2 linked regions of the Homo sapiens genome follow. The protein of the gene in region 1 interacts with the protein of each later gene in a pairwise test. Each region holds a gene or a part of one and is shown on either strand. Other genes may lie near its edges.

The links. The genes of interacting proteins can lie anywhere in the genome.
Region 2: the proteins of NRF1 (region 1) and ESM1 interact in binary tests that used the Homo sapiens proteins (3 or more experiments, as listed by UniProt).

The regions. Positions count from the first base shown.
Region 1 is NC_000007.14:129,705,716-129,712,737, forward strand, and holds part of NRF1 (nuclear respiratory factor 1), read left to right. Parts: intron 1-3,359; coding exon 3,360-3,518; intron 3,519-4,658; coding exon 4,659-4,856; intron 4,857-5,759; coding exon 5,760-5,861; intron 5,862-7,022. UniProt on the Homo sapiens protein: Transcription factor that activates the expression of the EIF2S1 (EIF2-alpha) gene. Links the transcriptional modulation of key metabolic genes to cellular growth and development.
Region 2 is NC_000005.10:54,982,594-54,990,209, forward strand, and holds the start of ESM1 (endothelial cell-specific molecule 1 isoform a precursor), read right to left. Parts: upstream 3,001-7,616; 5' UTR 2,925-3,000; coding exon 2,624-2,924; intron 1-2,623. UniProt on the Homo sapiens protein: Involved in angiogenesis; promotes angiogenic sprouting. May have potent implications in lung endothelial cell-leukocyte interactions.

The DNA.
Region 1 (7,022 bases):
GATTGGCCTGGGCAATGTAGGGAGACCCCTTCTCTACAAAAAGAAAAAAAAGAAAAGAAGGAAAAGTAAAGAAAAAAAATAGCTGGGCATGGTGGCATGCGCCTTTAGTCCCAACTACTGAAGGCTGAAACAGGAGGATCCCTTGAGCCCTGGAGGTTGAGGCTGCATTGAACTGTGATCATGCCACTGCACTCCAGCCTGGGCCACAGAGCAAGATCCGAGAGTGAGAGAGAGAGAGAGAGAGAATGAATGAATAGTTAGTATATGTTCCACAAAGAATGTAGGACTTTTCTGGGCACTAAAGAATGAGTGGCGGCATTAGAATAGTAGCATGGAAAATAGTCCAGCCAGGGGACAGAACAAAGGCAAAGAAGCGGGAATGGGCTTAGCAGCTCTTAAGACAGTGCAGAGATTTGTCTGATGGAGGACCAAGGCTGAGTGGTGGGAATTAATGGGAACTGACTGTAGTGTGAGGCCAGATTGTGGTGGGTCTGAAAAGCTGGGCAGAAGGATCTAGTTTAGTTGCCATAGTTAAAAGACATTTGGAGGTGTTTTGAGCATTGGAGCTATGTAGGTAACATTTAGGAAAACCTCTCAGGCAAGGATATGTGGGAAGAGGGAATGAAGGGAGAACTTGGAGTTTCCCAAGAAAGCCAACTAGAAGGATACACTAGCCTTGGGCCAAAAAATTAGAATAAAGGTGGGGCCGGAGAAGAAGGGATAGACACCAGAGACGTTTCAAAGAAAACAAAAGAACTGGACTTGCAATGTGTGACTAGGTAAGTGTTGAAGGAGAAAAGTAAAGATAACTTTGACATTTTTAGTTTGAGTGGCCGGGGAAAGGGTGGTTTTCTACTTGCTAAGATAAAAAAGTTGAGAAGACAAGTAGATTGGAGAGAGGGTAGGGTAGGAGTTTAAGTGAAGAGGCTGATGCTGAGCCCACCTTTCAAGTAACATTGAGTTATTGGAACTCAGTTGGAAGGCCTGGTGGGAGAGCCGAAGGAAGACTTGAGGGTGAAAGATATCCACGTCCAGGTGCCAACGTGACCCAGAACTGAGGAGCATAAGGAACTATTGGTGCAAATAGGGTGAGGCGTCAGAAGTGAAGCGATCACCAGAATTAGGGAATATAGAGGGTTCCAGGTGGATCTGAGCAGACTCTGTCAGTCTAGTATTCTCCACAGTGAGTGCTTTCTGATCACTTTAGGATTTCTGTTTTGTTTGTTTGGTTTAAGACAGGGTCTTGCTCTGTCACCCGCTTTAGGATTTTTGTTTTGTTTTGTTTTGTTTTGTTTTGAGACAAGGTCTCACTCTGTCACCCAGGCTGGAGTGAAGTGGCACCATCATGGCTCACTGCATCCTTGACCTCCTGAGCTCAAGCGATCCTCCTGCCTCAGCCTCTCTAGTAGCTGGGACTACAGGCACGTGCCACTGTAACCGACTGAGTTTTGTATTTTTGGTAGAGACAGAGTCCCACTGTGTTGCCCAAGCTGGTCTCAAACTCCTGGTCTCAAGCATTCTGCCTGCCTGAGCCTCCCAAGGTGCAGGGATTATAGGCATGAGCCACTGCACCCAACCCACTTTAGGATTTTGTTAATTTAGAATTATTTAGCCTTCTCATTTCATTTTCTCCAGACTCTCCTAGGTATGAATATAAAGAATTCTCCTTTTTGGAAACTGTTAATGGTATTCAAAGAAAAGGGAGTTTATGAAAGTCTATATCAATTTAATCTATACCTCTGAGAAAGCCATTTTTTTTAACATGAAGAAGTATAAAATATTGTGTGTGAAGATTAAGCCCTTTCTTGCTCTATGTATTTGAGCCTAGAAAAAGACACACTCCCAAGAAATTAGAATAAAGGGAAAAATGACTTTGAGATGTACTTTCTTAAAATAACTGAAGTAATGACCGCATGAGCCAGCTGATGGGTTTTTAAATGGATACGTTTCTATCAGCCTGCTGCTTGATGCCAGAGCCAAATATATATGGAGTGTATTATATCATATCCTGTAGGCAGGAGACTGTTGGGGCATTGGGGGACTTAGAGAGGTGAAGTGGCAGGCTTGGCACAGGAATTAACAGCATGGCTACCGTCAACCAGAACTTTATTAGGTCAACATTACTGATTGGGTTCATGGTTCCCTATTATGTAACAATTTGTATCATCTTCTCGTAAAATAATATCTAATATTTATTATAAGAATGATAAGAATACCTGATATTTATAGAAATCTTTAATATTAAAGTGTTGCTGTACTCATTCTCTCATTAATACTTAATTATTCTCATTTCTGTTTTTTCTTGTTTTACTTTGTAACTACAAATCCACACCCCCGAGTCTGATTCATTGCTAAAAGTGGCCTCTTTTTGGTTTTCAGCTGCAGGGGCAGTATGGGTGCATCCTTAGTTGCAGGATGCTACTTATATCTGGAGTGCTATAGACCACCAGGTTAAAAGGAAGACAGTAGGTCTGGGAAGGAGGAATAGATCATAAATTGATAAACTGCTTTTCTTGCCAGAAATCATTATCAGCGATTAAGAATATTCACAAAGTAGACCCTCCCCCAACACACACAGAGTGTGGTTACTATGCCAGGAAATAAGAATGGCAGTTGTCTTTGTGGTTTAAAACCTGTTTGGTCTGGATTTGATTTGTAAAATAAATCTGAATGAAGTCCATAATGCATTTAAATTCACACATGCTTTACTATGTCTATATGTCAGACTCATGGACAGTGGCCTAGCTTACTGGAAAATTTCTAGAAGAGTTTTAGGGTTATTTTCCCTTTTTATTAAGTTAAAGGCCTGTTTGTTTTCCTATATTTTATAATCAGCCACCTTATTGAATTCTCATTATTGTTTGTAGTAGTTTTTCATTTGATCTCTTTGGAATTCTCTAGATATAAGGTGACTTCATCTATAAATAATAATGATTTTATCAGCTCGCCTCTTATTTCTCTCTTATCTAATTGCATGGATTCCTACTTCCAGAACAGTGTTGAAAACACCCCGAGTTTGGCACCTTACATGCATGAAAACTGTAGAAGGGAAATAAGCTATAGTACCAGTAATATCTTGGGAAGCAGAAATTAAACTTAGGGGTAGATATTCTTACTCTTAGAGGAACAAGTCTACAAAATGCAGCCTAAGGTGCACTTTATCAACATATTTATAATTCTCAACCACCCATGGAGATATAGGAACCTATGGAAAACAGTGGGTTTTCATCAGTCACATCTTAGAATTCTCTGGGACCTTCCTGGAAACCTCTCTGTTTTATAAGGTTAGAATTTAAGGAGTCATAAACACACCCCAGATGTCTTTCATGAGTATTGATGACCACACTGTTCTCTTCCAGGCCCAGCTTCGGGCATTTATCCCAGAGATGCTCAAGTACTCTACAGGTCGGGGAAAACCAGGCTGGGGGAAAGAAAGCTGCAAGCCCATCTGGTGGCCTGAAGATATCCCCTGGGCAAATGTCCGGAGTGATGTCCGCACAGAAGAGCAAAAGCAGAGGGTGAGAGTTCCTCTGACTGAGTTGCCTGGTTGCTTTTCCATCCTAAATTAACCACCTCAATTTTTGTCATTTCTACATCTTGTGCTAGAAAGTCTTTGTGTAATAGTTAAGCCTGTCCCTCCAAAGACTGATATTCTTTGATTTATAGCCTTTTCCATTTGTCGCTCCATCACTATACTATAAAGAGAAGACTGGGTTGAGTTGATGAATTTAAAATGTGTCTTCGGGGTTGCCTTTTGGAGCAGTTTTAATTTTATGAAGTGCTTGGGAAAGTCAAAGAAACTTGAAGTAAAAGTATTAATCACTTTGAACACTTAGAAATGCTTTTATTTCTGGTTACTAAAAATCATTGTTGAAAATGTAAATATGGAATTAGAGGGATATGAAGTCTGCCAGCTGAGTCTGCTAATAACAAAACTTTTACAAGAAAGACTAAACTACCTACCATTCCTTACTTTTTTTGCGTATTTATTTTTCTTTTTCTTTCTTTTCTTTCTTTTTTTTTTTTTTTTTTGAGACAGAGTCTCACTCTTGTTGCCCAGGCTGGAGTGCAATGACGTGACCTCGGCTCGCCGCAACCTCTGCCTCCCGGGTTCAAGCAATTCTTCTGTCTCAGCCTCCCGAGTAGTTGGGATTACAGGCATGCACCACCATGCCCAGCTAATTTTGTATTTTCAGTAGAGATGGGGTTTCTCCATGCTGGTCAGGCTGGTCTCGAACTCCCGACCTCAGGCCATCCGCCCTCCTCAGCCTCCCAAAGTGCTGGGATTACAGGCGTGAGCCACCATGCCTGGCCACGTATTTATTTTTCATTTAGCTTGGAAGTTTACTGAGAATCTTAATATGCCATTCTTGATCAGAATAATCTTTCTTTGCAAGAAGTTTAAGAGTTTGGCCTCAGGTTGGAATAGGGTGTAAACTAGACTTTGATCAAGAAGAAACCAATGAGAAGCCCTCTTTGATACTTCGTACACAGCTTCTTTCTACCAGAACCAGTCTGTGGGAGGTAATCCTAGGAGAGTCTAATAAGAGGTTTGGTTTGGTTTGATTTGATAAAGAAGTAGCTGCTTATTGCATATTGGGACTAAATAACCAAAGTTCTTTGTGGCTTAATGTGCTTTTCCGGTCATTTGGTGACAGGTTTCATGGACCCAGGCACTACGGACCATAGTTAAAAACTGTTATAAACAGCATGGGCGGGAAGACCTTTTGTATGCCTTTGAAGATCAGCAAACGCAAACACAGGCCACAGCCACACATAGTATAGCTCATCTTGTACCATCACAGACTGTAGTCCAGACTTTTAGTAACCCTGATGGCACTGTCTCACTTATCCAGGTGAGTAAACCTGAGGGCTACCAGACTGTGGCTTCTGAGATGGATCAGTGGGCACCTCACCTCAGACTAGGGAAAGTTTCCTTTGTGCGAACTCTTGTATGAACTTTATATAGCTCCCCAAGATCTTCCTACCTGAAATTGATTTCTGAAGAATAGTTTAAATTCTTTGCATTTGCTAAATACAGAGCTATGAGTAGCTTCCTGGACATTTCCAAAACAAAGCACTTTTAAAGGGCTCTTTTTTTTTTTGAGACAAGATCTCTCTCTGTCATCACAGCTCACTGCAGCCTCAACCTCCCGGGCTCAAGTGATTCTCCCTCCTCAGCCTCCCGAGTAGCTGGGACTACAGGTGTATGCCACCAGGCCTGGCTGAATTTTTTTTTTTTTTTTAAGTAGAGATGAGGTCTTGCTATGTTGCCCAGGCTGGTCTCAAACTCCTGAGCTCAAGTGATCCTCCTGCCTCGGCCTCCTAAAATGCTGGGATTACAGATGTGGGCCACCATGTCTGGCCTTAAAATGACTTCTGTTTTACAGTTTCACTCTCAGTGATCAGGGAATATTCCTTCTGAATGACCTCTTCTGAGGTAAAACACAATTTGTTGATTGGGAACCTCTAAAGTTCAGATTGAGGTGAGAATAGAAAGTTGGTTGACCAACACTGGGCATGGATGTGGCGATGTGATAGCTTTTCTCATATGGACTTATTTGGTTGAAGTAAAATTCTGAAACTCGTGATAGTCTCTGAACTATGATTTTAGTGAGCTATGATTTTAGATTTCACATCATAAGGCATATTCTTTGTTATCTGTGCTGAATTTGGGATTAAATGAGTCTCAGCTTCTGAGTAAAGAGGTGGAAGGATCCATCCACTGACACTTAACCACTTTCCATATTTTTCTTTAGGTTGGTACGGGGGCAACAGTAGCCACATTGGCTGATGCTTCAGAATTGCCAACCACGGTCACCGTTGCCCAAGTGAATTATTCTGCCGTGGCTGATGGAGAGGTAAGAAAGAGATTCCATCTGCATCTTCTTAAATACTTGAATGTATAATGAGGGAAAAGCAAGGGTCCAGAAGATGGAGTAGCCTGCATGTCTGCGGCACTCTTTCATTTAAACCTTTTAAAGAGCATGAGACCATGAAAGTTTTAGAAAGTGTCTTATGCTATGTGTATTAATTGTAACAATTAAGATTCATGGATTAGTATGTCAGGAACTTAGAATTTTACATTTGAATGTATAGCATTTGGTATTATACACAATACAAAGGGATTATCCCTTTACCATTTTTATGCTGTGAATCCCAAAGAATTTCATCTTTGGTCTTTATGAAAAAAAAATGTCACATTAAAACTGGAACTGACTAAGGGAAGCCTTCTTTGAAAGGATAAATATGTTTGCAAGTCAGTAACATGATTTATTACATCTTAAATATGCCTTTGAAAAGATTTCTTAGGAGAATTCTTCCTTACCAAAATTGGGATAATTATGGGACATTAACCTAAAGACAGCCAACCTTTATTGATCACTTGGTGGGCTAAACACTCAACCCTATGAAGTATAAAGTTCTGTTATCTTCACTTTAGAGATGAGAAAACCGAGACATAACAGAGCTTAGATGATTTGCCCAAAGTCCCATAGCAGTGTTGAAGCTGGATAATGCATTGAGAAAAACATTACCTAGGCTCTGAGCCATTGGTGAAGATGCAACAGTGAAGGAAGGGGTTTGTTACGTCACCATGAGTGTTTCCCTTGAAGATACTGATGTGGTGTGCTGAAGTTTGAAAAATAGCCAACAGATGTCAAAGAGCAGTATCAGAAATAAAGCTAAGAGTATTATCTCACCCTTGTTGAGAGCCATGGAGCATTTCCCCTTAGAACACCACAAAGTCACTTTCATTTGTGCCCCTCAGGAGAGGGGGAGAGCTGGCAAAGGCCACATGGCTGGGAGATGGAGGGAGAGTGCACCACAGGCTCCTTGGCCACCCTGCATGTGCCAAACCCCTGTGTAGCTGCAGCTGTGTGGAGTTGATTCGCACAGGATCCTTGCTGTCATGGGACTCCAGTCTAGTGGGGAAGAGAGATGTCTACGTGAATGAACTCTAGCCTTCCTGTAAGGGATGCTGCAAAGCGTATGTGCCTCCTTTCCACCTAAGGAGCCTGGGA
Region 2 (7,616 bases), on another chromosome or scaffold:
TTTAAGTGTATAGGAAAGGGCTTCAAACTAACCAGGGAGAGAGCTATCATCCTAGCTCACCATGAAGCAATCAATCTTCCATCTGCTCCAACCCTTATCAAGTTCCTTATTTGTCGAAACGGCATGTCATACAACTTGCCTGACTCCCTCAGTAGTTAAGAGGGCTCCCTAGTAAAATCCTCTGCAAGGCTAACATGCAAGATGCTAAATGAGCAAGAAAGCTCAGGGCTTATACACCCTGAGGGTTTGTACACCTACCAAGAACTAGAAGCTTTTAGACCTCCAGTGCTTACACTTATGCCAAAACATCCTACATTGAAATAAAGAGGACAAAGTCGTTTATTTAAAATGCATAAAATTATTTAAAATGCTGTTTTTAGGATAAACAGCATCTCAGTAGACTAACCAACCTTTAAAAGCCAGCAGAATAGATATAGAATATTCTCTTGTTGTGAAAATACCTTGTAAATGTACAATCACAGGTGGGTAAAGAACAAATTGTGAGCCATCTGAGTCTCTAGCAGTCTAATACTCCACTAACTGACCAAGTAGATCATCAATGAGCTATCTTTTTTTAAAGAGATCTATGAGTGCTCTTTTCAATATGGTTCAGATCACAGAGGAACCTGGTTTTGAACACTGTTCTCTTTGCTGGGAAGAAGAGATCTTAAAAAGGGATCCTGCAAAGGCCTGTTCCAGAAAAGCACACAGGATTAGGATTTGACTGTGCCTGCAGCGATATTGAAAACTAAAACTTTAGCCAAATTCCCAGAGATACTTCTAGTGTATCCCCTGATGTACTGAACAGTGCTGGGCAGATAGTAAGTGTTCATTAAATATGTGTTGGCTGCTGATTGTTAATCTGGGCAAGATGTTCACAGACATCTGAATATTTAGAAGACATTTGGATACGCAGCTGAAGTTTACAGTTTTCACGTGGATGTTCTTTTAAAAAGCTGAAGAAGGGAGATGATTGCCAAATGTATTATCTCTATCTCGAGTTGCTAAGGCTCACAAAGTCTCCTATTTCCAGCAGAGAGAAAAATGCTTAAAACTAGATTCATCAGCAACCTGAAGAAAGCCAAAAGAAGCAATCTTAAAGATCTTTTTAGTATCTTGATCATTCAGTAGAATACTACAGTGCTAAAGACTCCAGATGCCACACAGCTTGTTTCTTTGCCCATATGTAATGTACATTTACAATCACATGTACAAAGGCATATTATGCCAAGAGAAAAAGCAATCCACTGCATATACATGCTATATCATAAGTATGATTGTGTTAACCACTTCCTCCCTAATTTCCTTATGTGAAGTACTGTTTTCTTGGTCAATAAGCCCCATAATTTACAAAATATACAGATCCTATTCAGTTGAAAGAAACATGCATATGTGTTCACCAAACAAAATATTTTCTCAATATTCTATTTCTTATTGTATATAAACAAAAATAAACTAAGCAAAAAATAAAACTCTCCTAATACTTTAAGAATTTGTTTTTTTAATTTTGTATGTCTTGCAAATTAAAAGATGATTAATTTATACATTATATGTCTAAGAAGTAGGAGAATTAATGAGATTAGCACAATACTGGATAAATATTATTCATAAAAAATGTATTAAATACATAAAACATAATAATTATTTAGAAATTTCTCAGTCCTTTTTATAATTTTGAAAGCTTCCTGGTATTACACAACTGATGGATGGGGTTATAGCATGTGTTGCTTCTTAATAATAGCTCTTCATAATAAGATCATGAGATATCTATACGTAGAGTATTTTTAAATCATCATTCTTTTTATTCTAAACATTTTTAAAATGTTAAATATTTTAAACTAGTTACTATGTTTAAAATAAATTCTACAAATGCTTAACTACATTATTTAGCTAAAATTTCAACCGACGAAGTTTTTCTTTAAGTGTACAAGTGGTCAACCTCATTCTTTACAGACTTCCAGTTTTTATTTTTCTCTATTGTTATTTTTCCTTGTCTTAACACCATCTGCTATTTTTCCAGATGACCAAAACCTTTATAAAGTCAGATGAGGTTTGTTTTATGCTTCAGGGGACCCTCTTTGAAGAGTGAGTTATTTTGTTAGATGACTTAAGCTCACTCTATTCCATAAAGTGCATTTGTGTTTATCAGAAATATTTGATCTTGAGAGTGGCCCTCCATCCTGTGGACCCTTTCAAGATCAAAGAATCACTAAATCTGGGGGCTAGAAACCATTCCAAGAGGTTATCTAGTGCAGACCTTTGTAATCGCTGCCTCGCAGAGGAGAGAGCACCTAAGCCATCCTTAACAGATTACCTGTCAAGTTTCTAAAGTTTTCCAGAAAAGGAGCCAACACAATCTTCCATTGCAGCTTTCTTTTTGCGATCTCCTAAGGCAACGAGTAAAATGCCACACTTCTTTCTGTGCCTTCCTGCACACTGGTTTCAGTTGCTACTTGGAGCTATCCTTCAGTCTCTACCCATGACAATACCTGTGTGGTGCCTTGTCAAGAATCCACCTGCCTTTTCCCTCTTACTCTTGAGGAGCAAAGCCACCTCACCTCCCAAGCTGGCTAAAAGCTCTCAGCATGCCCCGGGAGGGGAGAGGTAAGGGGTCACTCTTTACCTTTGCAGATACCAAACTCTTCACCAAAAGGATCCTCCCCATTAGAAGGCTGACACCTCAGCCCCGGGCCACACTTCATGCCATCCATGCCTGAGACTGTGCGGTAGCAAGTTTCTCCCCGCCCTGCAGCGCACACTCGGCAGCAGCCACAGTCGTCGAGCACTGTCCTCTTGCAGCGCGGGCTGCTTTTGCACTCACTGCTGTCACAGTGTTGAGGGCAGTCCACCGCATAATTATTGCTCCAGGCGGCCACCAGGTGTGCAGGCACGAGGAGCGTGGTCAGCAGCAAGACGCTCTTCATGTTTCCCAGCTGCCTCCGGCTCGGCTCTCCAGTCGTGGTCTTTGCTGGTGGGAAGCAGCCGTCCAAACTGGTAGCTGAGCCTCTGCCTACACGTTTATGAGTTTTATACACTGGGTTGCCCGCATGCTTTCCCGTCATCAATTTCCTCAACCCAGCAGCAGCGCTGTCCTCCTGCCAGGCTCTCTTGTTTTGGTTTATGAAATCCAGGATGAAGGCTGGATTAACACGCTGCTGCCATCCAGGAATTGAAAAGCCCAAGCTGATGTCATCTGTTATGTTTAGATGGTTGTTTTGCATGAGGACTGAAAAACTCACTCACATCCGTCTCAAGGGCTCAAGGACGTCTGTGAAGGAGGGATAAAGAAGGTTGCACACCCTCCTTCAGGACGGGAATTGTTCTGACCCTGGCATATCACTTGAGGTGTAGCTTTGTCTCAGAGCCTCTGTAGTCAGGAGGAAAATGATATCAACATGAATCATCAGGACCGAAGAAGCTTCTTCAAAAAAAATAATAAACATTTGGTATTTCCCCTCAACAAATAGCTATGAGATCATTTGAAAGAAGAAAGGGTTATATTGTGTCTTTTCAATACTTAGAAGAAAGAAAATATTTTGATAGGGCTATTTTTTAAGACCCTCTCTTCCTTCCTCTCACCCCTCTCCTCAAATGTTATTTCTAAAGCAATTCATGTTACATATATCTAAGCCTATTGTGGATATAGCTGTGCTTCCAGTACAATGTGGAACTGCCTCTGAGAATTTCTTTTAAAATCAATACAAAAAGCCACAAGAGAGGTAAGATCCTTTCGGCACTGCTTCTGGGTTACTCAATTCTGGAAAAACTTATCAGTTGGACTTCTGATCCAAAACTTCCTCAGGGGAAGGCTCATCCATCACTAAGTCTGCTTGTCCAATGACGGAGTCCACCCAGAGCCCTTCCCCTCACCTCCTGGCATCTATCAGAGCCCTCACTAAAAACTGCCAAGCGCGGCAGCCAGCCCAAGGCAACAAGTGGCTCAGCAGGAAAATCAGAACACAGCCCCCAAGAAACAAGTCACAGGGAAGGGAAACATTACCCCTCAGGAAACAAGGTCTGCATGCTAAGAGGGTTACCGTGCCTAGGTCCCTCTGGGAAAACAGAGTAGCCCTCTTAAAATATCAACTGTGCCAGGGTCTTATTAAGTAAGGTTAAAGAGGAGAGAGGGGAGTTCTTACACCAACCACATGCCGAATTCCATGCCCCCACCTCACTTGTCAAAAGAGATATAGACTCACTGTCACTTAGTAAATAACAACCCAGTAAAGTGGGTAATTCTTGGTCTGTCACAAATGAGCTGTAAGAAATTCACAGGACTTCTCTTGGCCTCAGCTTCCTCTTTTGAGAATTGATGGTGTTAGGCTACCTGACCTCTAAAATTCTTGTTTCCCATAGAAGATGAGGCAGAGCGGGCATTGGATGTAACTTGAAGATCGGCTTTTGCAAATGCAATTTTAGGGGGACACAGGGAGTAAATTCAGAATACAGAGAATTGAGGCAGTAGGAAATGAAAGCAAGAGTTTTAGCTTTCAAATTTTCCAAATTTTTCATGACAATCCAATTTGAAATACTCTATCTCCCCAGAAGCACTTACTTAGCAGGTGGCACACTCTGATGTTTTCAGTAATGGGTAATATTTGTTGAGTTAATAGCTTAAACACTTTACATGCATTAACTCATTTGCACCTCATCACAATATTATGAAGTGGCTGCTATTATCATGCTTATTTTTTAAAAGAAGAAACTGAGTAAGAAAGAGGTTAATTTGCCTAAGGTCCCTATATTGAAGGGATGGATGTTAGTCTAATGTCAGAGCCACATATTCTATTGCCTATTACAATACATAATTGTGCTTTCATGGCCAATAGTTCCAATGGCCTAGGTCGCAATTTAGGCTGACCCTAGAAAATGTCCCTTGTTACTGAACACCACTTTCTGAGGAGTAGTTAACTGGAATAGTGGTTAATAATAATATCTAACCTTTACAGAGATCTGACTGTGTGCCAGATGCCATGCTAAGCAGTTTATGTAGATTACCACATTTAACTTTCAAAACAACCTCAAGAGCTAGGTGCTATTCTTATCCCCATCTTAGATATGAGAAAACTGAGGCCTAGAGAGGGTAAGTAACTTGTCCATCATCACACAGTTAGCAAATGGTGAAGCCAGGACTCCAGCCCTGAGACCAACAAGCTCTGGAGACTGGATTAAGGATTGTAAAATCAAATACATACAGGTGCCAAACAGGTGCCCAAGGTGGGTGACATGGTAAGCTATACTAGATGTAATACAGAAGGAATGGAGTGGATTTCGTCCTCCTGAATAGCACATAAAGACATGAAACTCTTCCACTATGGAAGATAAAGGGAAACCAAATTGATAATACCTTCAGTAAATGACAACTAAACAAATGTAAGTTGAGAGTACCAAATCCAAATAGTAAACCAAACTACAATGCACAGGTAAGTGCAGAAAATATGCCCAATAGAGTTCACCAGTGGTGGAACTATCTCAATACACAGTGCCTAACAACTCATTTTAGGGGAACCTTCAATCCCTCCAAGACCCAACAAAAACCATTTGTCCCAACACAATCCCTGTAAGATTTTTATCTAGTGATTTCTGTCTTCCCCAGAGCCTTGAGCCCAGATCAATGAATTCCATTAGGAAAGTTAGCAATGACCACAAAGGGTTAGGAAATGGGAGCACGAGCAACCAAGGAGCCAACTCTAAGCTGCATTAAAAAGCAATAAGATGATGGCAGAGCTGTTGATAGTGAGTGCATGAGGTCCACCCATTTCACTTGCTTTGTGCTGGGGACTGGAACATCTCTCATCTTGCTCTGCCTGTATATCAGTTGTCAAGTCAGAGTGAGAAAGGGCAAGAGGAATTGCACAAGATTTTCACAACTCCTAAAATGTAAGTTCAAACTAAGGTGGGTCAAACCATACCATCTGTGGATCCAAATGTTGCAGCATATGGTGTTTTGCAATGGGGGCAGAGAAATGATAAAACCAAATATCTATTTAACCCAGTATACCCTGTATACTTAAAATGCCACTTTGATTTTTTTCTTAAAGCTGGTATTGTGTTAGGAAAATAAGCTTTGGTAATGTGCATTAATATTTTGTGTTTATTTTGTACATTATGATTGCTTCTAACCAAATAACAAGGATTTTTTTCTGGATAGGTAAAAGTAGTCCAGTGGAAAGGCTCTGGGCAGATCCCAGACTCTCAGAAGGTGGTTTATGGTAAAGCGAATTATACCGTACTTACTGTGCCTTCCTAACAAACCAGCTCTACCAGAGAAGTCTGGTTTAAATTGAATTACAAAGGCAGACTTGAGGGCATAAAGTTTGGAGGAGCAAGTGGAGACATTTACATGCAGATTTTAGGTGATTTGGTTTTTAGGTTAGTTTTGGTTGTGGTTTTTGATACCATCTGAAAGTCTTCCTGCTTTGACACTAGCTGATAGCAATTTTGCATGTGCCTACTGCAAGGTCTAGCCCACAGCAGGAGCTTAATACTTAATAAACACATAAAAGGAACCAACTGTTTCCCAGAATCATCTTCAGATGATAGTAAGTTAAACGGGCATCAATGTGTTCCCTTTCTTTCTCTTTCCACCAGGAGAAGCAAAGTGAGGCCCAGATTCTAGGGCAGGCTAGGTTAAGCTGCAGAATGTGTTTACTTGTGGGAATGAGGTAGAGGTGTCAAGAAACAGCACATCCAATCCAAGAGACATCGAGGATTGGATGGAGCCTGAGCAAAGACTGTAGTCCCATTGCGGCAGTTCCTTCACAGCTAACCAAATTTGTCCTGTTGACCTTGGGCTTGGCAATATCACATCCACCCTGGAAAGTTCATGGGAGCCCCTCATAGCCAATAGAACTTGGTGAAATACTTCTGCCAAACTGGCTGGGATTCACGGCAGTCACAGGTCAGCTGTCAAAGCCCAGGGCCTGAGGAATCTTCCCAGAGCCTCCTGCCCTGAGTACAGTTTGCCTAGAAACAGCTTTACCACTGCCAAGATATGTGATCTTAGGCAAGTCACATGCCACATACCTTAGACCTCTCCTTTCTCCTCAGTACCTCAATAATAAGAGGGCCAAACAGGGCAACAGATATGAAACCATCGTGACTATTATTATCAAGCGTCTGATTTCTGAAGATTGGCTTCATTCTTTAAATGTGATCTTATGTCTTGGAGCAAATATTTTCCCAAAAGAAATCTCTCTAATTCTTTAAGTTTCTATTTTTAATAAAGACAATTTTAATAGCAAAGTGGAATTGAATGTACCAATATATGATTTACAGGCAATTTTCAAAAACTACACCTGCTTAGAAGAGCAAAGTGAAATGCATCTGCTTTAATTAGGCTTCTTGCCCATATGGGGGCTCTCTGATTTGTCTTGATGAGCAGGTCAACCTCGTAGGCAGCTGGGGTGCCATCACACAGAGCTCTGCAGGAGCCCTGAGTGTGAGGGTGTGTGAGTGACTGCAAGAAGATAAGGACAGGACACCCGCAGTGTCTGCTACAAACCCAGAATGTCTGGGCACCTCTCAGAGAACTTGGCACTATATCCAGATTTTTACTCCAATGGAGCCTCTGAGGAAGCAGCCACAGAGTCAGGTTGTTTTTTAACCCTGTTCAA